4 linked regions of the Homo sapiens genome follow. The protein of the gene in region 1 interacts with the protein of each later gene in a pairwise test. Each region holds a gene or a part of one and is shown in the gene's direction. Other genes may lie near its edges. The genes, in order: ZFHX3, POU2F1, CSTPP1 and TRIML2.

Region 1 (7,588 bases):
GTCAGGGAGGGAAGTGAGATCAAACCTGGCCGAAACCTTCACCGGCTGAGTGTGAATGAGATGGTGGGTGGAGGAGCAGCCACATGTTCTCCAGGAGGAGCAGCAGGGGAATGGTGGCTGGGGACCTACGGGCAAAGGATCAGGGCTCTGCGAGGTGCTGAGCTGCCTGTAGGAGCAGGGCCAGACGGAATGATCGCCCCTGCGATGATATTACTGCAGGAGCAGAGCGGCCGTGATCCGATGCCTCCCTCCCCAGGGACATGAGGTCTCAGAGGGCACATTCAGCTCAGTGGCACTTTGGAGTCGGAAATGGAAAAGCCCCAGGGCTGAACGACAGCTGGTTGGGTAGCGACTAATAACTAAGAGGCAGGTGTGGAGCTGGGGCTCGCCGAGCCCAGCTGCCGTCTCGGCTTGCTGCTCAGATCCTTGATAGCAAAAACCACCAGGCACGTGGGGAACGCACTCCCTCCAGCCAGGGCCAGATAGAAGCTGCTGGAGGGGGTGTTGGCAGATCCAGAGTCTGGTCCATTCCTGCTGGAAATACCAAGCTCACGTTTTGCACCTACGTAGTTTTAGTCTGAAGTCAGCTAGAGTCACAGGCCAGGGAGCTTGACTGGTATGGGTGGAGGAGACAGGAATCTGGGGACCCATCTTTTCTTCTGTTTCATGGTGGTGAGATTAGCACTGAGCCAGTTTTTAGATTGAAGCCCCTCTGTTTTACTGCTTGTAAAATGGGACTGACGCCTCCCAGATCTGGAGAGGACTTTTCGGAGTGTGTCTAGTCCTGTACACCTGCCCTGTGAACCTCAGGGTCCTCACCCGCCTTCTTTGAACTTCTCAAACTAGAACCATGGTCAGTAAAAGCGACGGCTGCAATTGTTCTAAATCCATGAGCGTTATCCCACTTTACCGTCCTTTTTCCAGGGACATTGAACCTCCCTCTTCTCAGCCCTCCCCTGTGTTCCCCTGACCCACAGACAGTGCGCGGAGTCGGGGCTGACTTCGTGTGAGCTGTCCATAAGTGGTAGGGCTGTGGCTGTGACCTCGTAGAGGGCTGGAGAGATGACGCGTCCGTTCTCCACTGTGGCCCATCGAAGCTATGCTGGCAAAGAATGGAAATTCCCGCTAGTCTTCAGGGGCAGAGCGGTGACAATTCGAAGCCGAAGAGGGCTGTTCCTGGCCTTCTTTCCCCATATCCCTCGCTCAGGCTGTTGACCCGGCCATGCCACCCCTGTGTGCTGGACCGTGTGGGGCAGTGTCCCCAGGCCCGCCCTCCGCCCTGTGTCTCTGTGTTGTGGACAGAAGCCTCTTAGAGCGCTCCGTGCGGTAGGACCTCAGCCTCGGCCCTCCTAACCTCTTTCCTTTCTCTCTCTCTTTCCCCTCTCTCCCTCCTCCCCCCTTGCCTCTGCCCTTCAGGTCCGAGCCTCCGTACTGGGTGCAATGAAAGCTCCACGCAGGCCTTACCATGGAAGGCTGTGACTCGCCCGTCGTCTCGGGGAAGGACAATGGGTGCGGTATCCCTCAGCACCAGCAATGGACTGAACTCAACAGCACCCACCTCCCTGACAAACCCAGTAGCATGGAGCAGTCCACAGGCGAGAGCCACGGGCCCTTGGACAGCCTGAGGGCCCCCTTCAATGAGCGCCTCGCGGAGAGCACCGCGTCGGCCGGGCCCCCCTCCGAGCCCGCCAGCAAGGAGGTCACCTGCAACGAATGTTCGGCCTCCTTTGCCAGCCTCCAGACCTACATGGAGCACCACTGCCCCAGCGCGCGCCCCCCGCCACCCCTGAGAGAGGAGAGCGCCAGCGACACCGGTGAGGAGGGGGACGAGGAGAGTGACGTGGAGAACCTGGCCGGGGAGATCGTCTACCAGCCGGACGGCTCCGCGTACATTGTGGAGAGCCTGAGCCAGCTGACCCAGGGCGGGGGCGCCTGTGGGAGTGGCAGTGGCAGTGGGCCTCTCCCCTCGCTTTTCCTGAACTCTCTCCCTGGCGCGGGGGGCAAGCAAGGGGACCCTTCGTGTGCTGCACCCGTGTACCCGCAGATCATCAACACTTTCCACATAGCCTCATCCTTCGGGAAATGGTTTGAGGGCCCAGACCAGGCTTTCCCGAATACCTCAGCCCTGGCGGGGCTCAGCCCCGTCCTGCACAGCTTCCGCGTGTTTGACGTGCGACACAAAAGCAACAAGGATTACCTGAACAGCGACGGTTCTGCCAAAAGCTCCTGCGTATCCAAAGATGTTCCCAACAATGTGGACCTGTCCAAATTCGATGGCTTTGTGCTCTATGGCAAGAGGAAGCCCATCCTGATGTGTTTCTTGTGCAAACTCTCCTTTGGGTACGTCCGTTCGTTTGTGACCCACGCGGTGCATGACCATCGAATGACCCTGAGCGAAGACGAGCGGAAAATTCTTAGCAATAAGAACATCTCCGCTATCATCCAAGGGATCGGCAAAGACAAGGAACCCCTTGTAAGTTTTCTGGAACCAAAAAACAAAAACTTTCAACACCCTTTAGTTTCCACAGCTAACCTCATAGGCCCCGGACACAGTTTTTATGGTAAATTTAGTGGCATTCGAATGGAAGGGGAGGAAGCTCTCCCAGCGGGCTCCGCCGCTGGCCCCGAGCAGCCCCAGGCTGGTCTCTTGACCCCCAGCACCCTGTTGAACCTTGGCGGGCTCACCAGCTCGGTACTGAAGACCCCCATTACCTCAGTCCCCCTGGGGCCTCTGGCTTCCAGTCCTACCAAATCCTCAGAGGGCAAGGACTCTGGGGCGGCAGAAGGAGAGAAGCAGGAAGTGGGCGACGGGGATTGCTTCTCTGAGAAGGTAGAGCCAGCCGAAGAGGAGGCGGAGGAGGAAGAGGAGGAGGAAGAGGCGGAGGAGGAGGAGGAAGAAGAGGAGGAGGAAGAAGAGGAGGAGGAAGACGAGGGTTGCAAAGGACTCTTTCCAAGCGAGTTGGATGAGGAACTGGAGGACAGGCCCCATGAGGAGCCTGGGGCCGCAGCAGGTAGTAGCAGCAAAAAGGACCTTGCTCTCTCAAACCAAAGCATTTCTAACTCCCCCTTAATGCCTAACGTGCTCCAGACCCTGTCGAGGGGCACAGCTTCTACTAGTTCTAATTCTGCTTCTTCCTTTGTTGTCTTTGATGGTGCGAACAGGAGGAATCGTTTAAGCTTTAACAGTGAGGGCGTCAGGGCCAATGTGGCAGAGGGCGGCAGGAGGCTGGACTTCGCTGACGAAAGTGCCAATAAAGACAATGCCACAGCACCAGAACCAAATGAAAGCACAGAGGGTGACGATGGGGGCTTCGTTCCCCATCACCAGCACGCTGGCTCCCTCTGCGAGCTTGGGGTTGGGGAGTGCCCCTCGGGGAGTGGCGTGGAGTGCCCCAAATGCGACACGGTCCTGGGCTCCTCCCGCTCGCTGGGCGGCCACATGACCATGATGCATTCTCGTAACTCGTGTAAGACACTCAAGTGCCCCAAGTGCAACTGGCACTATAAGTACCAGCAGACCCTGGAGGCACACATGAAGGAGAAGCACCCGGAGCCGGGGGGCTCCTGTGTCTACTGCAAAAGCGGGCAGCCCCACCCCCGGCTGGCACGAGGCGAGAGCTACACGTGTGGTTACAAGCCTTTCCGCTGCGAGGTGTGTAACTACTCCACAACTACCAAAGGCAACCTCAGTATTCATATGCAGTCTGACAAGCATCTCAACAACATGCAGAACCTGCAGAATGGAGGGGGGGAGCAGGTCTTCAGCCACACTGCCGGGGCGGCGGCGGCGGCGGTGGCTGCGGCGGCGGCGGCAGCCAATATCAGTAGCTCCTGCGGGGCCCCCTCGCCGACCAAACCAAAAACCAAACCCACCTGGCGGTGCGAGGTGTGTGATTATGAGACCAACGTGGCCAGGAACCTCCGCATTCACATGACCAGTGAGAAGCACATGCATAACATGATGTTACTGCAACAGAACATGACCCAGATCCAACACAACCGCCACCTGGGCCTCGGCAGCCTGCCCTCACCCGCCGAGGCCGAGCTCTACCAATACTACCTGGCCCAGAACATGAACCTGCCCAACCTGAAGATGGACAGTGCTGCCTCGGACGCCCAGTTCATGATGAGCGGATTCCAGCTGGATCCCGCCGGGCCCATGGCCGCCATGACGCCTGCTCTAGGTGAGGATGACTACGTGTTTGTCTGTTTTCATGATAGGAGTTTAACCAGGGAGAATGGTGAATAGGGTGAGATAGTCCTGTGGATTCAGTTGACTCTGGTCTTCTCGAGTGGTTTTTGTGTAAACTGGAGTGTCTTACAATCAAGTATTCTCAAGAATCCCTTGAACTGTGTGTGTACATATGGAAGAGTTTATGCATTCAAAAGAGATATGCTTGTACTCTGGCTACGTGGGGCCAGGATTAAAATGTGAGTGTTTCCTCTAGTTTTCTGTTCCCATTCTCTCTTTCTCTGTCTCTTCTTTCAATTTGAAAAATCACTATAATCACCTAAAACTTTGGGGTTTCATCGAATATTTACTGAAACTTACAGGAAACTGTAGCTGAGGCAATCATTTCAATAAGAGGACTAGGGACAGTTACCTCAATGATTTAAGTAGAGACAATCATCTTAATAATAGGAATTCGGAACCACAGTGTACGTTATTCAGATAACTAAAGGCTGATTCTGTGCCGAGCTAGGGAACCATCCAGATAGACTTCTCAAAGTTCTCTGTATATTTATGAGGACCTCAATGAAAGAGATGTTTTTTTTTTTGCTTATTTTTGATGAGTACTTGGTGATTAGAATAGTTGGAAATTAATTGGGAATTAAATTCCCCAGTGGCACTGTTGTGAGGGGTGTGAGAGATGAAAAATGAGTAAGTTGTAAAAATTGTCCATCAAGGAAAGTTAACTTTTAATAGCAGTTAGATCCTGGTTAGCGGAGCCTTCGCTGCCAGGAAGAATGACCTCTGCTTTAGAGAAGCTGATTTGGCTCTGTTCAGGCTCCCAGTCTTACCAATTGGCTTACAATATCTAGAATAGGACCAAGAGTGTAGGATTTGGGTGCTAAAAACTTTGAGTTTTTACGTAGAACGAACCACAGCCACTTTGAGGATAGCTGCTGCTGCCAAAACAATCTACAGATGGGTTTCATGAGAACCTTCTGATAGTTGGGCCACTCGTGCCTCCACCCGGTATGCTTCAAACAGGATCCTGCCTGCGTCCCATCCCGTGACGCTGCTAATGGACTTCGTGGGACCAGTGACAATGGCCTGAATTAAGCAATATGCCATTATTGACATGGGAATAGGTTGTTCTTGGCAACAGAGTGTCAGTGAGGACTTTTTTTCCAGGATGGCTTAGATGACTGCAGGGCCAGGCCTCAGCAGTTGGCAAGTGTTTATTTGTGTGGTGTTTGAGTGCTAATTGTTGCCGATGAGTTATATTTCAAAGCATTCCATTGGTTTTTCTTGCTATGTATTCAGTTTTTAATCCTTAGTACTTTAATCTCATTTTCCATTTTGAAATATTTGCCTGTTGATCCTTTATTACCAAATGATTTGAGGGTATTTGAAACCAACTGGCTAATTGTGGATGCACAAGCACTGGTCGTCTTATTTGTCACCAGGGTGAACCATGCACACCAGGAGATGGGAGTGAGTACTCTAAGGTTTTCTTTAAGCCAGTAGGAATTAGAAGGAGTCATAGAATCTCGGGAGGTAGATCTTGGAGCAAATCAAACATAACGGAGGTGGAATGAAGACAGAACGTGGGAACGTGGGTAGGTTCATGTTGGGTCAAAGTGAGGGTTTTTTTTTTTTTTTTTTTGAGACAGAGTCTCGCTCTGTCACCCAGGCTGGAGTGAGTGGTGCCGTCTCGGCTCACTGCAACATCCACCTCCTGTGTTCAAGCGATTCTCCTGCCAGAGCCTCCCAAGTAGCTGGGATTACAGGCACCCGCCACCATGCCTGGCTAATTTTGTGTTTTTAGTAGAGATGGGGCTTCACCATCTTGGCCAGGCTGGTCTCAAACCCTTGACCTCAGGTGATCTGCCCGCCTTGGCCTCCCAAAGTGCTGGGATTACAGGCATGAGCCACTGTGCCCAGCCTAAAGTGAGGCTTTTTAATTACCTTAAGAACAGGTAACTAAGGCTTGTATTGAGAAGTAGAGAAATATTTCGCTTTCACACCAAGTGTCTGTGAGTCTTTGGGGCATCATGCACTGTCCTGGGCATTGCGGCAGATTCAGAAGGAGCAGAAGAATGAAGCCCTGTGTTGTAGACACACATGGAAGGGCCACACCATATTTCTTAGACTGGAGCTCTTCCTCCCAAAGGATTTATCCAGCTCAGTCACAAAGGGCTCTTGAATTTCCAGTGTCACTACTTGTCGGCCACGGGGAGTCCCTGGAAACCTGTGCCTTCCTTGGGCCGCGAAAACTGCTGAGAAGGTGTGAGAGCCACAAATCCTTTATGCCAGAAGCTCGAGTGGGTGTGGGGGCCATAGGAAGTGTCCAAAAGACTTGGAATTTGAGTTGTATGACCTCAGTAGGAGAAACCAACTTATGCAAATAAAAACAGCCATAACTTTCAGTTCTAGCTGTGGCTGTACTGGTTTTTTTTCCCCATGGTCCATTTATAAGATGGCTGTAGGTGTTATTAGATGTGACTGAGTTCTGCAGGGAGAAAAATGTTTTTGTGAAATACACTCCTCTTTACAAGGTGATTGTTTTCATACTTCCCTTGGCAGAGCCCTCTTTAGTATCATCAAACAGACACTGATTGTGGGGTTGCTTCTTTTCAGAAGCCTTTGAGGAAAGGCTTGGGGCTCCTTCGCCTAGTACAGTCGGATCTGCTGCTCTTTGTAGACAGCACATTAGATTTGAGGCCTTGTGAACATCCTCCCAAACCTTCCTTTCGACTCTGAAGTTTAGCATAGCACCAAGAAAGGGGTTGCTTGTCGGGGTGGCTGTGTGTTTCCCAAGTAGCCAGCCAGCCCCTGGACACCTGCACAAGGTTTAGCAGCTCCCTTCGTCTCCCTTTCATTCCAGAGTGTGCCTTTGAATCCATGCACCTTCCTGAGGATGTGCTGATGGGTGGGCTCACGTGTCAAGGTGTCAGTTCCAGTGTTAGAGTTAGGTGCATACCCAGAGATGGGGACCTGCTCCAAGACCACGTATCCAGTGTGGCTCAAGACTAAGGACCTGCCAAGTTCTTTTTTTCATTTCTTTTTTTTGAGATGGAGTTTCACTCTTGTCGCCCAGGCTGGAGTGCAATAGCGCAGTCTCGGCTCACTGCAGCCCCTGCCTCCCGGGTTCAAGCAATTCTTCTGCCTCTGCCTTCCGAGTAGCTGGGATTACAGGCATGCGCCACCATGCCTAGCTAATTTTTGTGTGTTCAGTAGAGACAGGATTTCACCACATTGGCCAGGCTGGTCTTGAACTCCTGACCTCAGGTGATCTGCCCACCTTGGCCTCCCAAAGTGCTGGGATGACAGGTGTGAGCCACTATGCCCAGCCCCAGTTTCTTATTTATAGGGGCCCTGCTCCTGTTTGTGAACTGGGTGAGATTCCCCCACTTTGTG
Region 2 (7,588 bases), on another chromosome or scaffold:
ATTACCATTAATGAAAATCAGTTTTATATTATGCTACTGTGCATGAACCAAAAATGGACAGGAAAAGTCTACTTTCAAAGTTGTATGTGTAAGTTCAGTAAAAATGTTTCTAAGTTATACTGCTATAACACATACCTAAACACACAGCCTGAAAGTTCTCTTAAATGCCAGTTTGTTTCCAAAAGACTTGTTATTTATCATTTTTGATGTCTTAGGGAGACCTTATAGGGAAGAGGAAAGAACACTGGACTGAGACACAAGGGTCTTAGGTTTGCATTCTCATTCTGCCACTGACTAGCTGTGTGACCTTTGGCAAGTCACATAACCTCCTTGGGTTCAGTTTTTCTCATCTGTACTTAAGTGGGGACATTTATAAGATTGCCAGGGTTCCTCTCCATCCTAAAATGTTAGGCTTCTAATAATTGTAATTAAACCTGTTTGTAGATGTTGGTGGATAGACAATCAAAATCTTAAAACTTAAATCTGGCCACTTTCCTTCTTTGAACCATATGGCACAACATGCAAAGTTCAAGTGTTAGACATTGCCCTCTTAATATTTCTATCAACCTGCTGGTTCCTTTCATTATAGTGTTTAGGTAACTAGCAGTCAAGAGGGAAAGACAGTATTATGGAAGATTGATTTCAGTGTTGCTAATGACTAAAGACCTTGGGTTGAGCATTTCATGAAACCCAGTTGAATATGGACCTAGTAACACGTAGGAACAAGGAGAGAAAAGAAAAAGAGATAATGTGACCTTACTTTCTGAGGGAGAGGAGGCGGAAAATTGCCTTGGTTGCCATGGTAAACTTTCATCCCTTAGAGAGATGTTGGCAAACAGGCTGTATCTCCAGTGCAGAATGTTTACAGTCCTGCACTGTAATTATCTCTCAATGACTGGCAGAATTAATCAGAGCATTTATGTTAATTAGCCTTGCTGCAGTCCCCAAAACAGGTGGTGAGAAATATGCAAATCTATGCAGAATTTTAATGCTTTGCATAACCAGTTTTAATTACCGTAAAATTTTCTCTTCGTGCCCCTCTCTCTTGACTGCAGCATTTTCTCTCTGAGCTTGTGTGTTAGTTGATGGGAGTTGCTAGATTTACCGTTCTGTAAAATATTAGGTGGAAAGTTCTGTGGATCAAGTGATCATTCTCTGAGATGGTATATGGAGAAGTTTCAGACTGACCACCAGGTGTATGTTAAAATATTGGTTTGGAAGGTCTAATGTAGAGGTGAATTGAAAATATATTCTTCCCTTTACCCCCTATTTCTAGAGTTGAGGAATTGGGGGCTATGAAAAAAATCTATAAATTTGTGGGGGATGACTTTATTTTTAAAAATTGTAATAGCAGCTTTGCTGGCATTAGAATTAACAAGTTTAAAAACTTGGTATGTGAAACTAGGAAAATACAAATAAAAGAAAGGAGGTAAACCAGAACTCATGACTGAATAAGCTCATGTTTTAAATGATTCCTAAAAGATGGGGTTTTAAGTACATTTCTTTTAATCAACCATTTGCAATCTTTTATTTCCTACCCACCCCACCTCAGTCTAAATCTAATGAAGAATCGGGGGATTCGCAGCAGCCAAGCCAGCCTTCCCAGCAGCCTTCAGTGCAGGCAGCCATTCCCCAGACCCAGCTTATGCTAGCTGGAGGACAGATAACTGGGGTAAGTGTTCACTGAGAGAATTATAACAAACTTTTTCTGTGTCAGAACTGCCATTGGCCAATAGCTGATTAGAATTGTTCACCATAGCTGGTAGTAACATGGCTATGCCTGGCACTATTGTGTCTTTAAGGAACTTCCTACACTGTAGGTAGTAAGTTGCTCTGAAAAAGGAATTATCTTTGTCGTAAGTTTTCAGGATATCTTTTATTAGAATTGTGGATGCTCTGGATAAATTAAAAACCTTATTAAACCCCTGTTTCAGGTGTTGCTTCATCATGCAATGGAGTAATTATCATATGGTTGAGATCATTACACTGAAAATGGCAGTTATCCATTTGGCATTAAGACATCACTGCAGGGTAGAAGTTAAAGAATGGATTAGTACCTGCAAAAGAAAAACATTTTTCTTTAAGTTACTGTGTAATGATCTAAAATAAAGCATGTGGCTTCATATCCTAGCTCTGCAACTTACCGTATGGCCTAATTACTTCATTTCCCTCTACCTGTTTTCCTTCTGTTAAATGGAGATACTAATAATACCTATCTCACATTACTGTTGTAAAGATTGGAGATAATACATGTAAAACTTATAGAACGGTGCTTGGCATGTAGCATTCAACAAATATTGTTTATTTTTGTACTTGATCTTAGCCAAAAGGCTGAGACGTTCTGTCATTTATTTTTTATGGTTAATAAATTGGCCTGTTTGGCTATATTAAGCTTTTAAGTTTTCAGCTGTCTTTTCTCTAAGGCACCATTCAAAATATTTTTCCAATGTTGAAAATTTGTGTATTAAATTATCTTTGTGGGGGTTGGTTTAGGGCAATGGTAAGGAATAGTTTTTATTCAATTCACATCACATTAACTCCCAAGAATTTCCTAGGGTTTTTTGTTTTCTTTCTTTCTTTCTTTCTTTTTTTCCCAGTTAAGTGTGTTTTGTCAGTGGACAACTGTTTTAAGAACTGTTGCAAAATTGTTCACAAAATCCCATGAGTAGAGATGTATGTATATATATATTATGTAAAAATTAAAAATATATCTATACTTTATATACACACATATCCCTTGAAGGGTATTGAGTTTTTGAATGGTTTGGTTTTGAGCCTTATGTTTCTAATGCACAAATTGTGTTTGATTCTTTTAGAGGAGGTTGTGGCACTAAGTGACTGTACATATACTTCAGAAAATTATGGTTCCATCTTGTTTGATCAATCAGAACTTGTCACCAAAAGAAAAGTAGAACACATTTACTACTTTAAGTGTGTTTGAAATAAGTTGCATTATGAAAACAACTTTAAATATGCTCTAAATACATTTCCTACTTTACTATTTGGGTCTTGTTTTTGGTGACTAGTGTCTACAATAGTAAGAGGGAGTTGGGATTCTAGGTTCCTTTGGCTGGAGCTTCTGTTAAACCTGGGCATTAGGGTTCATTTGCATGTAAAGAGAACGGCTATCACCACCTGTTTCATAGAGATAATGTGTTGGAAAGGAGATGTAAAGTTGCAGAGACTCAGTGCTTTCAATAACAGAAAAGATTGTGTTAGGGAGGGGCCTGTAGGGAGACTTGGAAAAGAAACAAATGGAGCTCATATTCTTTAGTCATATCTTTGGACTTAATGGAAATGATGGAATATGGCAGGGATTCATGCTAATGGGAAGCAGCTGGGCCTTATCAGTTCTTTCCTTGGTTATATCCAGCATCCTTGTTCCTCATTCATCTGACTAATCACTTGCTGTTTGGTTGTGTGTAAATGTATTTTCATATCTTGTCAGTGGTGATTCTTTTTTTTTTTTCTTGCTTACTAGTTAATTACTTTTTTGCCCAAACCCTAGGGCCCTGGACAAGCTTGAATGATTAAGTCCATAGTGGGGACCACCATTTTAATTTAAATGTTCTGCTAGTAATGGTAGTTTGATCACTGATGAACATTTTAGCTGTCTGCTAAGCAAGTGAAGTTGGGTAGCTGGGGACTGATATCATTTGAGTTACCTATTTTAAAGCAGTTGGCTTGCATTAGGAGACTTTCTCCTTCAACACTTTCCCATAATGTGTTCTGGTTTTGTTTAGCTTACTTTGACGCCTGCCCAGCAACAGTTACTACTCCAGCAGGCACAGGCACAGGCACAGCTGCTGGCTGCTGCAGTGCAGCAGCACTCCGCCAGCCAGCAGCACAGTGCTGCTGGAGCCACCATCTCCGCCTCTGCTGCCACGCCCATGACGCAGATCCCCCTGTCTCAGCCCATACAGATCGCACAGGTGAGTGAGGAACTCCAATAGCTGGGGCAGCAAGTGAGGAATAAAGTGGCAGGTTTTATTTAATGTTAGATTAACTTTTTGATTGTTAGTGTGGGGCCTTAACTGCCTGAGGAGCTCTAGATCAGTGAGGTAAGCGGTACCCTTCCTTACCACTGAATTAGAAATAATGTTTGTTTGCTTATTGTAGTTGATATTGTAAACATATAGCTGATTATTTGAATAACTGACTTTATATTAAGTGACAATTCTTGAATAATTAGCTGGCATATTTTTGAAGCAGGGGATTACTGTATTTATTTTAATTAGCTAATTACAGCAGACATGGATTTTTTTTCATGTGCTCTGCGGTGAATGTTGCCACCCATGTGTGAGACAGTGAGTCATCTCTGCTATGGAGTGATTAACATTATTGCATTAGAATGTTGTTTGGTTTCAATTTTCACATTTTAGGGCAAAGTATCTAGAGATAATAAAAATTTATTTAAGAAGCGCCAGGCGCGGTGGCTCACGCCTGTAATCCCAGCACTTTGGGAGGCCGAGGCGGGCGGATCACTAGGTCAGGAGTTCGAGACCATACTGGCTAACACGGTGAAACCCCATCTCTACTAAAAATACAAAAAATTAGCCAGGTGTGGTGGCAGGTGCCTGTAATCCCAGCTACGCGGGAGGTTGAGGCAGGAGAATAGCGTGAACCCAGGAGGTGGAGCTTGCAGTGAGCCGAGATCGCGCCACTAAAAAAAAAAAAAATTAAGAAGCATACACAATAGTACCAAGGAGGAAAATAAATAAAATCTTTAATCTCAAGAAGAGGAAAAAGGTATAAGTAGATATATCAGTAAAATATATGAAGAGTTATTATGAGTCTAATTGTTAGACAGCTGTCTTTATCCGTCTCAGAAAAGACTCAGAAATGGACTTAACTTGTAGCAAGAGTTTGACTAACCATTTAAAAAGAACTAATTAACTGTAAGAGTAGAGAATAAATATCAGACTAGTCTTTATACAATCTTTATCAAGATAATGTTTTGATTTTGGCCACTTTCTCATCACCAAATAAATGTTTTTAGTGCCTAAGCTGTGAGACCCTATATTAACATTAGTCTAAATAAGATAACGTTCATGAAAACACTTTGAAAATTATAAAACAGTAGGCCAATGTAAGGTGCTATTGTTGTTAGGGATTAAATTTTTATATGGATAGCTATTTTTGGTTTTAAAAAATTGAATACTTTAGAACATGTGGAAAAGGGCAAAAAAATTGAATACTGATTTTTCAGTTGAGTTAGATAAGCTGTTGTCAAATGTCATAAGTCATTATAGGCCCTTTATTGATGGAAATTCAGACATAACACGATCAATTTTTATTTAAGAGAAAGATCAATCAAATATTTAAAAACTGTTTTCTCACTTGATTTTTAAAACCCATATTGGTCTTTACATGATAAAAAACAGAAGTATATTTGTTCTGAGGGAATTTTAAAGAAACATTGAAAATTAGGCTTATCATAACAATATATGTCAGTCCACAAAAATAGTCAGTTGCAGAGGCTCCAGGTTGCTTCACGTGCTTTGTCAAGCACACACAGAGCATACCCTGTTTGGAATATGAAAGCATGCGAAGTATTTACTCTTCTTTATTTGGATGTGACAGAAGTCATCAGCTGGAAGCCTTATAATTAAGCGAACTTTTATTTCAGAATCTCCAATCCATGTTTTAATTCCAATTTTTCAGGATCTTCAACAACTGCAACAGCTTCAACAGCAGAATCTCAACCTGCAACAGTTTGTGTTGGTGCATCCAACCACCAATTTGCAGCCAGCGCAGTTTATCATCTCACAGACGCCCCAGGGCCAGCAGGGTGAGCTCCTCCTTAGAGCTTATTAGTGGTATACCAAGGCTGTTCGCTGAATGTTACACATGCATGAACTACTATCATTTTGGCCCTGAAACTATTAGACCAATGTTTTTATTAAATTTTATTTGATTATAAACTTTCGTTTAAAAAAAGTTTTGTTTTGTTTTTTGTCATAAATACCACATTATTGAAGGTTGCCCTGAACTGCCATTCATCTGCTTAATCACTAAGGAAGAACCAAGAGTTTGGCCAAAAGTCTAAGTGAAATTATTCAACATGCCAAACATAAATTGGATAAGTTGCTGCTAGTGTTTTGATTGTTTTTCATGGAAGTGTATTCAAAGAATATAGACTGAGTGTTGAAAGTATGTGCTTCTAACCATTGTTTTTTTAATTTAAGGAGGGAAGACTGCTATAATAGAAACTACAAATTTCGTGAGTTATAAAAAACATCTTTGAGTCATTTGAGTGGTAAATGTTATATAATTAATATATCAAACAACCACTCGTCTGTAAGGTCAGTTAATGTAATCAGGGTGAAGAATGTCAGAGTATCAAGGCTTCAACCCAAGGAACATTAGTGCATCACTAATGATTCTTTATTATTTCTGAGTGGGTTTTTTTGCCTTTTTTCTTCTTGATCATTCATTCCAAAATCTTTTGTCATGAAATAATTATTCTAGCATATATTCAAGATTCAGAGATAAGTAATTCAGTATTTACTTGCAGAGGGCTCACAATTTAGTGGCAGGGAAACAGACCTAAATTATGTTAGATTTGATATGCACACAATGCTATGGGAACCAAGCAAAGAGACCCCTGTAACTTTGTGCTCAGATAAGTCTTCACAGTGAATTTGGGAAAATACATTCATAGGCTTACAAAAGAGAGAATGTCAGTCTTGGAAAATGAACAGCATTTGCAAACCTTAGAAACATGGAAGAAAAATCAATAAGCTGTGTTTGAGAACTATAAGTAGTGCCTTACAACTGCAGAATAAGTTTGCATATGCAGGTAATAGTGAAATTTGAACCCAGAAAGATTAGCAGAGACCAGATCATTAAAGAACCTTAGATTAAGTTTCCAGGAGTTTGACCTTAAATCCTATAGCTTAGTGCTTCCTAAGATTTGATTTATTTAAGAGTCATTAATGGCCAGGCGTGGTGGCTGACGCCTGTAATCCCAGCACTTTGTGAGGCCGAGGCAGGCAGATCACGAGGTCAGGAGATCGAGACCATCCTAGCTAACACAGTGAAACCCCATCTCTACTAAAAATACAAAAAAAATAGCCAGGCGTGGTGGCAGGCGCCTGTAGTCCCAGCTACTCAGGAGGCTGAGGCAGGAGAATGGTGTGAACTGGGAAGGCAGAGCTTGCAGTGAGCCAAGATTGAACCACTGCACTCCAGCCTGGGTGACAGAGTGAGACTCCGTCTAAAAAATAAAAAAATTAAAAAATCACTTGAGGAATTAGAAAAGTTTCCTGAGCCCTAACCCCAACCTCCCAATTACTTTTTTTCTTATTTTTAAACTATTAGGTTCAGGGTTACACTCAGGTTTGTTATGTAGATAAACTACATGTCATAGGGATTTGATGTACAGATAATTTCATCACCCAGGTAATAGGCATAATACCTGATAGGTAGTTTTTTCGATTCTCATCCTCCTCCCACCCTCTACCCTCAAGTAGGCCCTGGTGGCTGTTGTTCCCTTCTTTGTGTACATATGTACTGAAAGTTTTATGGCTGTATAGTATTCCGTTGTGTATATGCACCACATTTTTTTTAATCCAGTCTAGTGTTG
Region 3 (7,425 bases), on another chromosome or scaffold:
TAGTGTATTCACCGTTTGCTTTTCTATAGTCTTCAATTATAGGGAGGATTTTCTTCCCTATCAATCTCTTAATAGGTCTTCTGCAGAGCCAGAGATGTCTATTAATTTTCTCATTATAAAATCAGAAATTATAATCTGATAAATTGATGTCTCAGCTGGGTGCAGTGGCTCATGCACTTTGGGAGACTGAGGCAGGAGGATTGCTTGAGCTCAGGAATTCGAAACCAGCCTGGGCTACCTAGCAAGACCTTGTCTCTACAAAATTAAAAATATTATCTGGATGTGGTGGCATGCACCAGTGATCCCAGCTACTCAGGAGGCTGAGGTGGGAGGATTACTTGAGCCCAAGAATTCCAGGCTACAGTGAGTTGTGATTGTGCCATTGCACTCCAGCCTGGGTGACAAAGGGAGACCTTATATATACTAAAAAACAAAACAAACAAACAAACAAAAAACAAAAGGTGCAGTGGCTCACACCTGTAATCCCAGCACTTTGGGAGACTGAGGCGGGTGGATCACTTGAAGTCAGGGGTTCGAGACCAGCCTGGTCAACATGGCGAAACCCTGTCTCTACTGAAAATACAAAAATTAGCCGGGTGTGGTGGCACACACCTGTAGTCCCAACTACTCGGGAGGCTGAGGCAGGAGAATGGCTTGAACCTGGGACACAGAGGTTGCAGTAAGCAGAGATTGCACCATTCCACTCCTTTCTGGATGATGGAGTGAGCCTCTGTCTCAAAAAACAAACAAACAAAAACAAAAACCATCTCAATATATTCTCTCTCTTGTTTTTTTCTTATTGTTCTGAATTTGATGTTTACAGTCGTCATGCTGTAGTACTGCCTTTAACATCCGATGCTCTATTTATCATCAATATCTTATCACTTGCCTCTTTTCAGGATTATGGAGTTGTCTTCTGACTTACCGATTTACCTCGGTGATTTTTTTTTTTGGTAAATTTTTAAGAAATATATTATGATAAGTTAAGAACCTGAAAAGTCAATTTAAATCAAAGGCTGACATTTTTTTTCTTTCTTTCACATTCAAGTCACAAAAAATACACTTAATTTTAACAACTCTTATATATTTCTACTCTTCTTAAGACTGATGTAGTGTATGTTTCATTGAAAAATTTCACCAATAACCAATGTGTTTCAAAAATCTATTATCATGTAATCTGTGACAGAAGAGAAATCTAGCAGTGGCTTCTTTTTGGGAAAAACAAACACTGTCTGGAAGGTCATCACATCTGCTTAAAAAATTTTAAAGATTTTCAGGCCACTCATTTATTATTTGTTTTCAGGTTATAATACATGCCTATTATAGAAAGTTTAAGACTATAGAAAAATATAAAGAAGAAAAATGTAAACAGTCAGTAATTCCACTACCAGTAAGGCCACCTGTTATTTCGGTGAAACTTCAAATTTTTGTGAAGCCTTACTCTAGCAACCTCCTACTTTTCTAAGTCCTCCTCCTCAATAGACTGTTCAGGACATTCAGAGTGGAAGACTGACTTTGAATACAGGGGTCCTTCGGATTTTTATGGAAGGGATGGAACTGTAGGAAAAACCTACAAATTGCTCCAGAGATGACATCTTGTTCTTATTTAGCCTTCTTTGAGTCATTAACAGTCGGGCGCCACTGGTGCTGAAACTTATCATTATTATAACCACAAATGGGTTAATGCCCAAACAAAGCTATATTCTTGGGGCTGGTTCCCAGCTCCACCACACAGACCCCAGCAGCCAGCACCCGCCAAGTCCCAGGATAATGCTCCACAAATAAGACGATGTCAAATGTTCAGCCTGGACTCAACATTATCTTCTTCTATCTGGGAGCTTCCAGTTGCTAGCAGGGCAGAGCAAAAGGAAAAATAAATAAATAAAAGCCAGGTCAACAAACCCTAAAAAAAGAGACTGTGTGGTTTAGTGGTCAGACCACTGGCCTGGATGTTGGGATAGCTGAGATCCAGTTGTAGCTCTACCACTATGTGGCTGCATGATGCTAGACAAGTCACTAGACAAGTCACTGTTGTGACTTGTGCCTCAGTTTCCCTAGTTAGAAAATGGAAAAGTGCCTTAGAAAGGTTTTTTTTTTTTTTTTTTTTTTTTTTTTGAGACGGAGTCTCGCTGTGTCGCCCAGGCTGGAGTGCAGTGGTGCGATCTTGGCTCACTGCAACTTCTGCCTCCCCGGTTCAAGTGATTCTTCTGCCTCAGCCTCCTGAGTAGCTGGGATTACAGGCGTGCGCCACCACGCCTGGCTAATTTTTGTATTTTTAGTAGAGATGGGGTTTCTCCATATTGGCCAGGCTGGTCTCGAACTCCTGAACTCGTGATCCGCCCACCTCAGCAGAAAGTTTTTATGAGGACAAATAAGATTATTTGCAAATAGCTACAAGTTGCTTGGGAATAAAGTAAAATTATCACTTAATAATTACTATGGTATTACCTTATTAATAAAATAGTAAAAAGCCACAGTTATGGAACATATGAACCTCCCATAACCTCAAGCTAGATGGGGGAAGCAGATAAGAAGGCAATTAAAAAAAAATCAGATTTGCTGGACTTCACACCAAATACCAAATTAGTAAATTTGCCTCAAGACACTAAGCCCTGCTCCTACTTTGGCTCTGTCCTTTTAACCTCACCACATCCAAACTTAGAGTGACTCACAGGAGCCTAGAATTGAGACACATATACAATTTTAAGGGAAAGCAAGAATTAGGAGGTTTGAGGCTCCTTACTGGAGGACGCTAAGAATAGGCCACTCGGAACACAAAGAGAAGAACCTCCTCTTTCCTTTTCCTCCCAGTGTAGGTGGTCTACTGGTTTCCCAGTCATTCCTTTGATAGCTTGATTTTGTTTTCTTTGTCTCTTTTTCACAAACCTCACCTTGTTGGAGGGGGAGGGCACTAAAAAAGTGAGGACAGAGTGGCTTTTTCTGCTATGTCTGAACTGTGTCTAGTGCTACAGATCTCTGACCTGTTGTCAGGAGTGGAGAGGGGCGAAAAGAAATATTTAGGAACTTGAAAACCAGTGAATATTCTCTTAAAGAAGAAGTGAGCAATTGGGCATATAGGGAAAAAAATCTAACTGGTGTCCTCGTTTCTGCAGCCCCTCTCCCTCAAGAAGAGCAATGTCTTGGTAGGAAAAAGGAAAGACACCTGGGAAAGGTACCAAATAGTAAGGGCTAGGAATAGAAAGAAGAACCAAAGATAAAAAGGAATTGAGCCTGGGCGCGGTGGCTCACGCCTGTAATCCCAGCACTTTGGGAGGCCTGAGGCAGGCGGATCACCTGAGGTCGGCGGATCACCTGAGGTCAAGAGTTTGCAGACCAGCCTCGCCAACATGGTGAAACCCCATCTCTACTAAAAACACAAAAAATTAGCCAGGCGGAGTGGCGGGCGCCTGTAATCCCAGCTACTTGGGAGGCTGAGGCAGGAGAATCGCTTGAACCCGGGAGGCGCTGGTTGCAATGAACCGAGATCACGCTACTGCACTCCAGCCTGGGCGACTGAGTGAGAATTGAGAAGAAATGGCAATTAGTTCAGAGGACTTAATGAGTACCTTTTGTGTGTCCAGCCGTCATAGGCAGAAAAGACACATCTCTGACCTCTAGAAGCATCCAGGGTATATGCATACGTAAGCACTTTGTAGCAATTTAAGATAGTAAATACCAAAGAGATAAAAATAGCTAATGGGATACTAAGTGTTTATGGGGGCCAAAGGGCGGGGGCTATTACTGAGTTAGGATAAACAGTGTATAAAAGCAGGGATAGTTATGAAATTCAGAAACTGCGTATATGGGCGGCTGACAGTAATTCTTCGACACTGGGAAACATAACGGATTCAAAAGAATTCTTCATCTCAGATTCCTCTAAAACCAAGTCTTCAAGAATGGGAGTCCAAAGAAACCTGGACCATCGTGAAGCGACTGCCCCCGGAACTTGAGTGGCCAGCTCCACTTTGCGACACGGAGACTGTTTGTGTGACACCTCCTCCAGCTCCCGTCCCCCTTCCGCCGCGTGGGTGCCATGGCAACGGAGAGAGACGGCAACCTGGGTTCCGGAAGCCGGAGAGCTGGAGCTTTGAAGCCACCCCGGTCAAAGGATGCTGAGTCCGGAGCGCCTAGCCCTACCGGACTACGAGTATCTGGGTAGGAACCCCCTTTAACTTTGGGGAGGGAAAGACGTGCAGACGAATTAGGCCAGGGTCTGGGAGGAGGCGGGGGCGGGGTCTGAGTGGGATCGGGTCCGGGTGGTATGGGGAGGGGCGGAGAGGCGGGGGTTCCAGGGCCTGAGCCTGTAAGGCCGAGCAGGAAGGAAAAAAGCACCTGGGAAGTAAAGAATGTTTGAAGTGTAGGGGCTGGAACTCAGGCAATGTGGATTGTGTTCAAATGGGTCAGGTTGGCGTTGAGGATTTGGGGCCCTGTTGGGGTATTATTGATATGCTGGTAGTGGAGTAAGAATAACCTTGGAACCTCAAGTGCCAAATCAGTCAGCGAACATTTCGAGCTTTTCTTTTTCATTAGGCACTGTGCTAAGCATTTTTCATGCATCATTCTTCATTTGAATTTCTCAACAGCCCTAGGAGGAATTACCGTGTTTTCTTCCAGTTTTGCAGGTGGAGAAACTGGGGCTGAAGAGGTAACTTGCGTTAAGTTAGGCCACACAGCTAGAAAATGGTAGCGCTAGGATCAGAACCGGATTTGCCCACTCCAACAGAACTTGAGATATTGACTTGGCTCTTGAGCTAAGACTGTATATGTAGTACTTTGTTGAGCATCTTTAGTGTATAAGGCATTTAATGAATGAAAAAAGGCACACACACGCATAGATATGTACACACACACACATATGCACACAATACACATTTTATTTTATTTTATTTTTGAGACGGAGTCTAGCTCTGTCGCCCGGGCTGGAGTGCAGTGGCGCGATCTTGGCTCACTGCAAGCTCCGCCTCCCGGGTAGCTGGGACTACAGGCGCCCGCCACCTCGCCCGGCTACTTTTTTGTATACTTAATAGAGACGGGGTTTCACCGTGTTAACCAGGATGGTCTCGATCTCCTGACCTCGTGATCTGCCCGCCTCAGCCTCCAAAAGTGCTTGGATTACAGGCGTGAGCCACCGCGCCCGGCCACAATACACATTTTAAATAATTCATAGACTTTTATTTTTTTAAAGACGTTTTGTTTTGTTTTGTTTTGTTTTTTGAGACAGAGTTTCTCTCCTGTTGCCCAGGCTGGAGTACACTGCAACCTCTGCCTCCCGGATTCAAGCGATTCTCCTGCCTCAGCCTCCCGAGTAGTTGAGATTACAGGCATGCGCCACCACGCCAGGTTAATTTTATATTTTTAGTAGAGACGGGGTTTCACCATGTTGGTCAGGCTGGTCTCAAACTCCTGACCTCAGGTGATCCGCCCACCTCGGCCTCCCAAAGTGTTGGGATTACAGGCGTGAGCCACTGCACATGGCGAGAAGTTTTAAGTTTACAGAAAATTGAGCAGATAGTACGGCGAGTTCCCATATACCTTGGGTCTCCCTCACTCACAGTTTCCGCTATTATTTACATCTTGCATTAGTGTGGTACATTTGTTACAATGGATAAACATATATATTTATAATATATAATAATATATTATATATTATTATTATTATATAGATATATTATTATAGATACATATTATTAACTAAAGTCCATAGTTTACATTAGGGTTCTTTGTGTTGTTCAGTTCTGTGGGTTTTGATAAATGCATGTCATGTATTCACCATTCCATTATCATACAGAATAGTTTCACTGTCCTGAAAAATCCCCTGTGCTCCACCTATTGATCCTTCTCCCTCCCCCTGCAGCCCTTGCCAACCACTGATCTTATGGTCTCTAAAGTTTTGCCTTTTCCAGAATATCATGTAGTTGGAGTCATACAGTGTGTAAATTTTTCAGATGGGCTTCTTTAACTTAGCAGTAAGCATTTAAGTTTCCTCCATGTCTTTCTGTGGCATGATAACTCATTTCTTTTTATTTCTGAATAATATTCCATTGTATGGATGTACCATGCACATCTTTTTTTTTTTTCTTCTTCTTTTTTTTTTTTTTTGAGACAATGTCTGGCACTGTCACTCAGGCTGGAGTGCAGTGGCACTATCACGGCTCACTGCAGCCTCAACCTCCGGGCTCAAGTGATCCTGCTACCTCAGCCTTCCAAGTAGCTGGGACTACAGGCACATGCCACCATCCCTGGTTAATTTTTTAATTTTTTGTAGAGAAAGAGTCTCACTATGTTGTCCAGGTTGGTCTTGAACTCCAGGGCTCAAGCAAGCCTCTTACTGTGGCCTTCCAAAGTACTGAGATTACAGGTGTGAGTCACTGCACCTGGCTTACATCTTTTTTTTTTTTTTTTTTTTTTTTTGAGATGGAGTTTCACTCTTGTTGCCTAGGCTGGAGTGCAATGATGCGATCTGGGCTCACCCCAACCTCCGCCTCCTGGGTTCAAGTGATTCTCCTGCCTCAGCCTCCCTAGTACCTGGGATTACAGGCATGCGCCACCACGCCTGGCTAATTTTGTATTTTTAGTAGAGATGGGTTTCTCCATGTTGGTCAGGCTGGTCTCAAACTCCTGACCTCAGGTGATCCACCCACCTCGGCCTCCCAAACTGCTTGGATTACAGGCGTGAGCCACCGCGCCCAGCCAACATCTTTTTAAATGAAAAACAATTCTGGTTTACATTTTGTTTAACTTATTTTAAAAATTAATTTTAAAATATTTTTTAAGGTTGGTAATATGGAAACTTGATTCAAAGTATTTTTTAGGCCTGGCATGGTGGCTCATGCCTGTAATCCCAATACTTTGGGAGGCTGACGTAGGAGGATTGCTTGAGGTCAGGAGTTCAAGACCAGACTGGATGATAGAGTGAGACCCTGCCTCTAAAATGCATAGATAGATAGATAGATAGATAGATAGATAGATAGATAGATAGGTAGATGTTTTTAGTGAAAAGCCTACCCCTTTGCCTCCATCTGCCCAGTTTCCATCCATCCTCAGCCTCCCAAAAGTAACCACTATTATTGTTTTCCTGTGTATCTTTCCAGAGTTTATTATATACATAAAGGAGTATACAGTGCATACTTTTTCATTTAATACATCTTGAAGTAATTTCCGTTTCTTTTGTTTTTTCTTTTCTTTCTTTCTTGAGACAGAGTCTCACTCTGTCACCCAGGCTGGAGTGCAGTGGCACCATCTCGGCTCACTGCAACCTCCACTTCCTGGGTTCAAGCCATTCTCCTGCCCCAGCCTCTCAAGTAGCTGGAACTGCAGGCACGAGCCACCACACCTGGCTAAGTTTTTGTATTTTGGGTAGAGATAGGGTTTCTCCATGTTGCCCAGGCTGCTTTTGAACTTCCTGAGCTCAAGCGATCTGCCCAC
Region 4 (7,588 bases), on another chromosome or scaffold:
TATCACTTATGTTTATGTTTTTTCCCCCTAAATAACATACTCAAGTTGCGTATGTGACTACGCAGTATATGTAAAGTATACTTGGAAGGATAAAAAGAAAATTGATATCAGTAACGTAATTATTTATTTCTTATTAGTTAATCTATATACCTTAATTTTAATTGATTTCAAGTTAATGAAAAAATAGGGAACCTTCTGAACAAACAGCCACAGAAAAAACATGAAATGTTTTAGGTGCATATTAATGTGAGTAAGGGCTGCGTGCACACACATCTGTATTGGCTTAAACATACATAACAGGGGGCAAAGAATCAACTGTCTCTTGAGAGGAATCCTGCTTCAGCAGAAGAATATCATGGCCTTGCCTAATTATGTCTGTTCCTGGGGTAGCAGGCAGAAAAGCAGGGTTTTTTTTTTTTTGGTTTTGGTTTTGGTTTTTTTTTTTGATTTGGAGTCTTGCTCTGTCATTCAGGCTGGAGTGCAGTGGCACGATCTTGGCTCACTGCAACGTCTGCCTCCCAGGTTCAAGCGATTCTCCTGCCTCAGCCTCCTGAGTAGCTGGGATTACAGGCACCCGCCACCACGCCTGGCTAATTTTTGTACTTCTAGTGGAGACTGGGTTTCACCATGTTGGCCAGGCTGGTCTCAAACCCTGACCTCATGATCCGCCGGCCTTGGCCACCCAAAGTGCTGGGATTACAGGCGTGAGCCACTGCGCCCAACCGAAAAGCAGGTTTTTAAAAACATGGTTGAATTAATCTATAGGAGAAGTTACCGAACTCTTGTTCCTGAACTTGAGGTTGTTGAATAGTAACGAAGAAATGCTTCTGCAGAGACTGGGCCGTGTGGGGAGAGAGAACATGGAGAAACTGAAGGAGAGTGAAGCCAGGGCTTCTGAACAGGTCCGCAGCCTCCTAAAGCTCATCGTGGAGCTTGAGAAAAAGTGTGGGGAAGGCACCTTGGCATTGCTCAAGGTAAGATGCTGGGAAAAAGAAAATAAAATTCATTCCAGTATTTGAGAAATGAGAAGTGGACAGTACTCATTAGGGGTTGCTGTCAGAACACAATATCCAATGATCTTCAACCACAAAAGAAGGCTACATGACTTTCTTTCAGCTGCCAAAAGCTTTAGGAATGGTCATAGCTTTGTGGGATAGTGTGGAGCTGCTTCATGAGATGAATTCTCACCTTAAAATTATCAGCAGTAAGTTAGGGTTGAGATGTGACACAATGTGGTTAATACCTCCATGCAATGAAATATTCTGTGATCATAAAGAATAAAACAGCTCTATAGGCACTAACAGTATTTCAAGCACTCATTAAGTGAAAAAGAAAGATGCAGACTGCTTTTTGTTTGATCTTTGGATAATAAGTATATATACACACACATATACATGTGTGGTTGCTAACATTCACAGACTTTCTGGCAAAAAATTAATAAATGTATAGTCATCTGTGATAATCTTGAAACAAGGGTGAGATTATCTGCTATGATCTGAATGTTTGTGTCCCTCCAAAATATATATGTTGAAATCCTCTCCCCCAAGGCGATGGTATTGGGAGGTGGGGCCTTTGGGTAGTGAGTGGGGCCTGGGGGCAGAGCCCCTGTGAATGGGATTAGGGCTCTTATAAAAGAGGCCGAGGAAGACCTCACCCCTTCAGCTTGTGAGGCTGGAGATGGAGGCTACCTAGGAGGGATGGAGCCCTCACCGGACACTGAATCTGCCAGTGCCTTGATCTTGAAATTCGGCCTCCAGAACTGCGAGAAATGAATTTCTGCTGTGCAGAAGCTACTCAGTCTATGGTAAGTATTGCATATTTTGAATTTTGTATAGTAACATACGTTGCCTTTCAGAAAGTGGGTTACCTTTTTTTTTTTTTTTTTCCCCGAGACGGAGTCTCGCTCTATCTCCCAGGCTGGAGCAGTGGCGCAATTTCGGCTCACTGTAACCTCCGCCTCCCCAGTTCAAGCGATTCTCCTGCCTCAGCCTCCTGAGTAGTTGGGATTACAGGCGCCCACCACCATGTCCAGCTAATTTTTGTATTTTTAGTAGAAACGGGGTTTCACCATGTTGGTCAGTCTGGTCTTAAACTCCCGACCTCAGGTTATACGCCCACCTTGGCCTCCCAAAGTGCTGGGATTACAGGCATGAGCCACCGCGCCTGGCCTTACTATCTTTTTAAGACTGTCCATATCCCTCTCCTGGGCTTATAATTGCAATGAATGCGCTCATCTGGAAAGCGTCTGTAGGTAAATCCTTAGGAAGCAGCTCAGTTCTTGAGCATGCAGGCAGGTGTGGCTCTGCCTGGCTCCCACTGCCCTCCCAGCCAGTGGCCCCTTCACCTGCTGAACTCTGGCCACCCCCTGCATGGAAAGCAGATAGATGCTCCCGTCTGAAGACTGAGAAATGATGGCTCTGAGTAAGATGCCTGGGGTGAGGGATAGAAAACCTTTCCCTTGGGACTACGACAAAATGATTTCATGCATTTTTCTGACTTTTTCTGTTTCCATGTTAGAATTTGTTCATCTGATAACTAGCATTATGAGGTTGAAGAAATGACATGGAAATTGAGTTCATTGTAAGAGGATATTTTCCTGGGCACAGATTGCAAAAACAGCTCAAAAACCCAGTAGTAACCTGGTCTCTTTTCTTTCCCTTAGAATGCAAAATACTCTTTAGAAAGGTGAGTTTTCATTTTGGATACAATTGGGTGAGAATCAGAGTCCAGTAAGATGTTGATTGAGATAGGGAGATTGCATTTGCTGGTAGGATGTAATGGGATCCATCCAGTAGACTAAGGGGCCTGTGGTCTGTGCAGATGACTGAGGCTGTCCTTTCTCTTCAGGAGCAAGTCACTGCTGCTTGAGCATCTGGAGCCCGCTCATATCACAGACCTGAGTTTATGCCACATAAGAGGACTCAGCAGCATGTTCAGAGTACTCCAGAGTAAGTTGACACATGTGAATACTCACAGGGCACTGTTCTGCATTTGAGAATCAGGTGACCATCCTGCCATAAATGAAAACAAATTCCAGTAGTTTAACAATTTTAGGCCAGCACAGTGGGTCACTCCTGTAATCCCAGCACTTTGGGAGGCCAAGGCGGGCGGTTTGCTTGAGGCCAGGAGTTCGAGACCAGCCTAACCAACATGGTGAAATCCCATCTCTACAAAAAATACGAAAATTAGCCAGTTGTGGTGGCGTGTGCCTGTAGTCCCTGCTACTTGAGTGGCTGAGGTGGGAGAATTGCTTGAACCCAGGAGGTGGAGATTGCAGTGAGCTGAGATCACACCACTGCACCCCAGCCTGGGCAACAGAATGAGACTCTGTCTTAAAATAAATAAATAAAAATTTTAGGAGACTGGAGAGCTTAATATGTTATACATATTAGATAAGGATCAAAAAAATAACTGTATGATCTCATATGAAAGCTCTTCCCATGCAAAATCTTTTTTTTTTTTTTTTTTTTTTTTTTTTTTGAGACAGAGTTTCACTTTGCCCAGGCTGGAGTGCAGTGGTGCGATCTTGGCTCACTGCAACCTCCCCCTCCTGGGTTCAAGTGATTCTCCTGCCTCGGCCTCCCAAGTAGCTGGGATTACAGGCATGCACCACCACACCTGGCTAATTTTTTGTATAGTAGAGATGAGGTCTTACCATGTTGGTCAGGATGGTCTTGAACTCCTGATCTCAGGTGATCCACGCGCCTTGGGCTCCCAAAGTGCTGGGATTATAGGCGTGAGCCACCACGCCTGGCTAATTTTTTGTATTTATGGTAGAGACGAGGTCTTACCATGTTGGTCAGGCTGGTCTTGAACTCCTGATCTCAGGTGATCCACGCGCCTCAGGCTCCCAAAGTGCTGGGATTACAGGCGTGAGCCACCACGCCTGGCTGCAGATTCTTTACCAGTTCCCCAGCCATGAAACATGATTGCAGGCAGATTCCACTGCTTAAAAATTTAAAACTTCTGGGGAAGAAATTCAGCATGTATAACAAAGGGTTTATATCTCCTGTCCTTATAGCTTTGCCTTTCCCAGAATGTCCTATCGATGGAATCCTACAGTGTGTGGCCTTTCGAGGCTGACAGCATACTGCAGTTGACATATAGAACGTCCAGGCTGCTTCGTGTATCAGTAGTTTGTTCCTTTTTATTGTTGATAATATTCCATTGTATAAATATACCATAATTTACTTATCCTTTTGCAATTCTACGGACATGGGTTGTTTCCAGCTCTGTGCTGTAAATATTAGCAGCAGATTTTTGTGTGGGCACAGCTTCATAGTTCTTGATTGACTGTCTAAGGGTGGGATTGCCAAACTTGTTTTCCAAATTGCCTGTGCCATTTTGCCTTCCCACCAATAACGTGCGAAAGATTCAGTTACTCTGTATTCTCACCAGGGTTTGGTATTGTCAGTTTGTTTTACTACATCCGACCCGATAGATGGGTAGTGGTATGTCATTTTAATTTGCATTTCCAGAATGACTAATGATGCTGAGCATATTTTCATGTGTTTGTTTTCCCTCTATCTCAACTTTGGTGAAATACATGTACAAACCCCTTTTCTAAATTGGGTTGTATGTCTCTTGAGTTTTATAATTTCTTTATATGTTCTGTTTAGCATTCATTTATCAGATAAATTTTGCAAATATTTCCTCCCAGCATGGTTTGTATTCTCATTTTCCTAATACTGTCTTTTGAAGTGTAGAGGTTTTGCATTTTGATGAAGTTCAATTTATCAAGTTTTTTCTTTTATGACTTCTGCTTTTTGTGTCTTATTTAAGAAATTTTGCCAAAGCCAACAAAGATTTCCTTCCAAAAGTTTTATGGTTTTCGGTTTTACATTGTGGCCTATGAACCACTGAGAGTTAATATCTGTATACAGTTCACAGAATGGTGCAAACCCTCTCCTCCCCCCACCTTCTATTTTTATTTTTTGACTCACATGTATCCATTTGTTCCAGTTTCATTTGTTAAAAACACTACCTTTGTCCATTCAATTTACTTGGCCCCTTTGTTGAAAATCAACTGGTATATGCGATCACGTCTATTTGTGACTCTAATAGGTCTATTGATGGTTGACTCTTTCCCTTTGCCAATAGCACACTGGCTTGATTGATAACTCTGTAGGAAGTCTTGAAAGCAGGTACTGTGCATTCTCCAAATTTATTCTTTTTCAGAATAGTTTTGGCTACTGTAGGTTGTTTGCTTTTCCACATAAATTTTGAAATCAGCTTGTTGGCTTCTTCAAAATGGACCGCTGGGATTTTTATTCATATTACATTGAATCCGTTGATCAGTTTGGGGAGAATTGACATCTTGACAATATTTGGTGCTTTCAGTCCAGGAATACAAAATATCTCCATTTATTTAGGTCTTCGATTTCTCTCATCAGTGTTTTGTCACTTTCAGCATAAAATGTTATATGTATTTGGAGATGTATCCCTAAGTATTTTATGTTTTTTACAGCCACTGTAAACGGTATTTTAAAATATCAATTTCTAATTGACATTTCATTCATTTCTAGTTCATTGCAAGTATATAGAAATGGAATTGTTTTATATATATTGACATTTGTACCCTATAACTATGCAAAACTCACTCATTAGACAGTGGATTTCTATAAATAGATCCTTCAGGATTTTCTACAAAGTCATGCAGTATATGAGTATAGATAGCTTTATTTCTGCCTTTCCAGTCTGTAAGCCTTTTCTGAATTTTTCTTGCCTTATTATACTGGCTCAGACCTGCAGTGTGTTGAACAGAAGTGGTGAGAGTGGACACTTGCTTATTCTCGATCTTAGGAAGAAAGAAAACATTAAGTCTTTTCACTCTAAATTCTGATACAGCTATAGCGCTTTTTGTTGTTGTTTTGTGTTTTTTGTTTTTGTTTTTGTTTTTGTTTTTGTTTTTGTTTTTTGAGATGCTGTCTGGCTCTGTCACCCAGGCTGGAGTGCAATGGCGAAGCCTCAGCTCACCGCAACCTCCTCCTCCCAGATTCAAACGATTCTCCTGCCTCAACCTCCCGAGTAGCTGAGTGCCACCACACTCAGCTAATTTTTGTATTTTTAGTAGATACGGGGTTTCACTCTGTTGGTCAGGCTGGTCTCGAACTCCCAACCTCGTGATCTGCCTGCCTCAGGTTCCCAAAGTGCTGGGATTAAAGGCGTGAGCCACCGCACCTGGCCCTAGCTATAGTTTTTTTTAATGGCTGCCTTTCATCAAATTGAGGATGTCCCCCTTTATTTCTGGTTTACTAAGAATTTTTATGAATCAATGTTGAATTTATCAAGTTCTTTTTCTCTTGAGATACTCCTGTTGTTTCTTCAACCTTTTTTGTTTTTGTTTTTGAGATGAGCCTCGCTCTGTTGCTCAGGCTGGAGGGCAGTGGCATGATCTCGGCTCACTGCAACCTCTGCCTCCCAGATGCAAGCGATGCTCCTGCCTCACCCTCCTGAGTAGCTGGGATTACAGGCCGCCACCAGGCCTGGCTGATTTTTGTAATTTTAGTAGAGATGGGGTTTCGCCAGGCTGGTCTCAAAGTCCTGGCCTCAAGTGATCCGTCCTCCTCGGCCTCCTAAAATGCTGGGATTACAAGCGTGAGCCACCGTGCCCAGCCACAGCTGTGCGTTTTTCCAGAGATAATTTGCATTTGTTTCTGCCAGTCTCCTGGAAATACTGAGAGTCTCAGACAATTTTTTAAAAATTCAAGACGTGTAGCTGTTGAGACCACCCTAATAATGTGAATTGGGCTTCAAATTCAGAGATTTAAGTTCATTAAATTTACTTCAGTCAAATAATAGAAATTAAGCTGGATTCCACATTACAGAAAGTAGGAAATAAAGGCCTTCCAGGTTTATGGCTTAGACAACTGAAGCAATGAGGGAGCTGTGAACTGAGAAGTAGAGACTGCAGAGGGCTGGCGTTGAAGTTCCATTTTGGGTGTGTTATGTTTGAAATTCCTGTGTTTTTTCCAACTGGTATTTAGCTGTTTATGGAGCGAGTCACAAACACAGAGAAGATGTTTAAAACTGAAGCTATGCACAGTTACCTGGGGGCAGTGAAGGAGAATATACTACTTGAAAGAAGAAGTCCCAGGACCAAGCCCTGAAAGATCACAATAGTTAGAGGCTGGGCAGAAAGAGATGAGAGGAACAGTCAGAGATAGGAAGAAGACGTATTCATGCAGGTGTGAGGAATTCATTGAGCCTGCGTGTTCTCAGCGTGAGTTTCTGGAGGGTCCACACAGGTGTTCCATCCTCCGCTGATAAATTATCTGATGTAATGCCTGATGTCCAGGGCCTGTTGTCAGCAATTTCCAGGCCTCTATGTCACCCTGTGGGGATATTTAAGATGTGTAGAGTACGGCATCGGGAGGGCCACGAATGAGTTGCTGCTGGCCGACTCCTGTGGCCGCTCCAGGCTTGGAGATCTAGAAGACCAGGGTTGGGCCCCAAGTGATATCTGGATGGAACTTGGCACCAGGACAGTTTGACCGTCTCTGGGGTGAAGCTGTTTTTTGTTTGTTTGTTTGTTTGTTTGTTTGTTTTGAGATGGAGTCTTGCTCTGTCGCCCAGGCTGGAGTGCAGT

The links.
Region 2: the proteins of ZFHX3 (region 1) and POU2F1 interact in binary tests that used the Homo sapiens proteins (3 or more experiments, as listed by UniProt).
Region 3: the proteins of ZFHX3 (region 1) and CSTPP1 interact in binary tests that used the Homo sapiens proteins (3 or more experiments, as listed by UniProt).
Region 4: the proteins of ZFHX3 (region 1) and TRIML2 interact in binary tests that used the Homo sapiens proteins (3 or more experiments, as listed by UniProt).

The regions. Positions count from the first base shown.
Region 1 is NC_000016.10:72,954,023-72,961,610, reverse strand, and holds part of ZFHX3 (zinc finger homeobox protein 3), read left to right. Parts: exon of another isoform or gene 1-1,416; 5' UTR 1,417-1,465; coding exon 1,466-4,184; intron 4,185-4,208; exon of another isoform or gene 4,209-4,364; coding exon of another isoform or gene 4,365-4,431; intron 4,432-7,588.
Region 2 is NC_000001.11:167,370,365-167,377,952, forward strand, and holds part of POU2F1 (POU domain, class 2, transcription factor 1), read left to right. Parts: intron 1-1,552; coding exon 1,553-1,672; intron 1,673-3,743; coding exon 3,744-3,932; intron 3,933-5,664; coding exon 5,665-5,791; intron 5,792-7,588. UniProt on the Homo sapiens protein: Transcription factor that binds to the octamer motif (5'-ATTTGCAT-3') and activates the promoters of the genes for some small nuclear RNAs (snRNA) and of genes such as those for histone H2B and immunoglobulins.
Region 3 is NC_000011.10:46,932,697-46,940,121, forward strand, and holds the start of CSTPP1 (centriolar satellite-associated tubulin polyglutamylase complex regulator 1), read left to right. Parts: upstream 1-4,109; coding exon 4,110-4,155; intron 4,156-7,425. UniProt on the Homo sapiens protein: Regulator of the tubulin polyglutamylase complex (TPGC) that controls cytoskeletal organization, nuclear shape, and cilium disassembly by balancing microtubule and actin assembly.
Region 4 is NC_000004.12:188,092,421-188,100,008, reverse strand, and holds part of TRIML2 (probable E3 ubiquitin-protein ligase TRIML2), read left to right. Parts: intron 1-833; coding exon 834-974; intron 975-1,729; coding exon of another isoform or gene 1,730-1,804; intron 1,805-2,662; coding exon 2,663-2,685; intron 2,686-2,847; coding exon 2,848-2,948; intron 2,949-6,986; coding exon of another isoform or gene 6,987-7,027; exon of another isoform or gene 7,028-7,219; intron 7,220-7,588.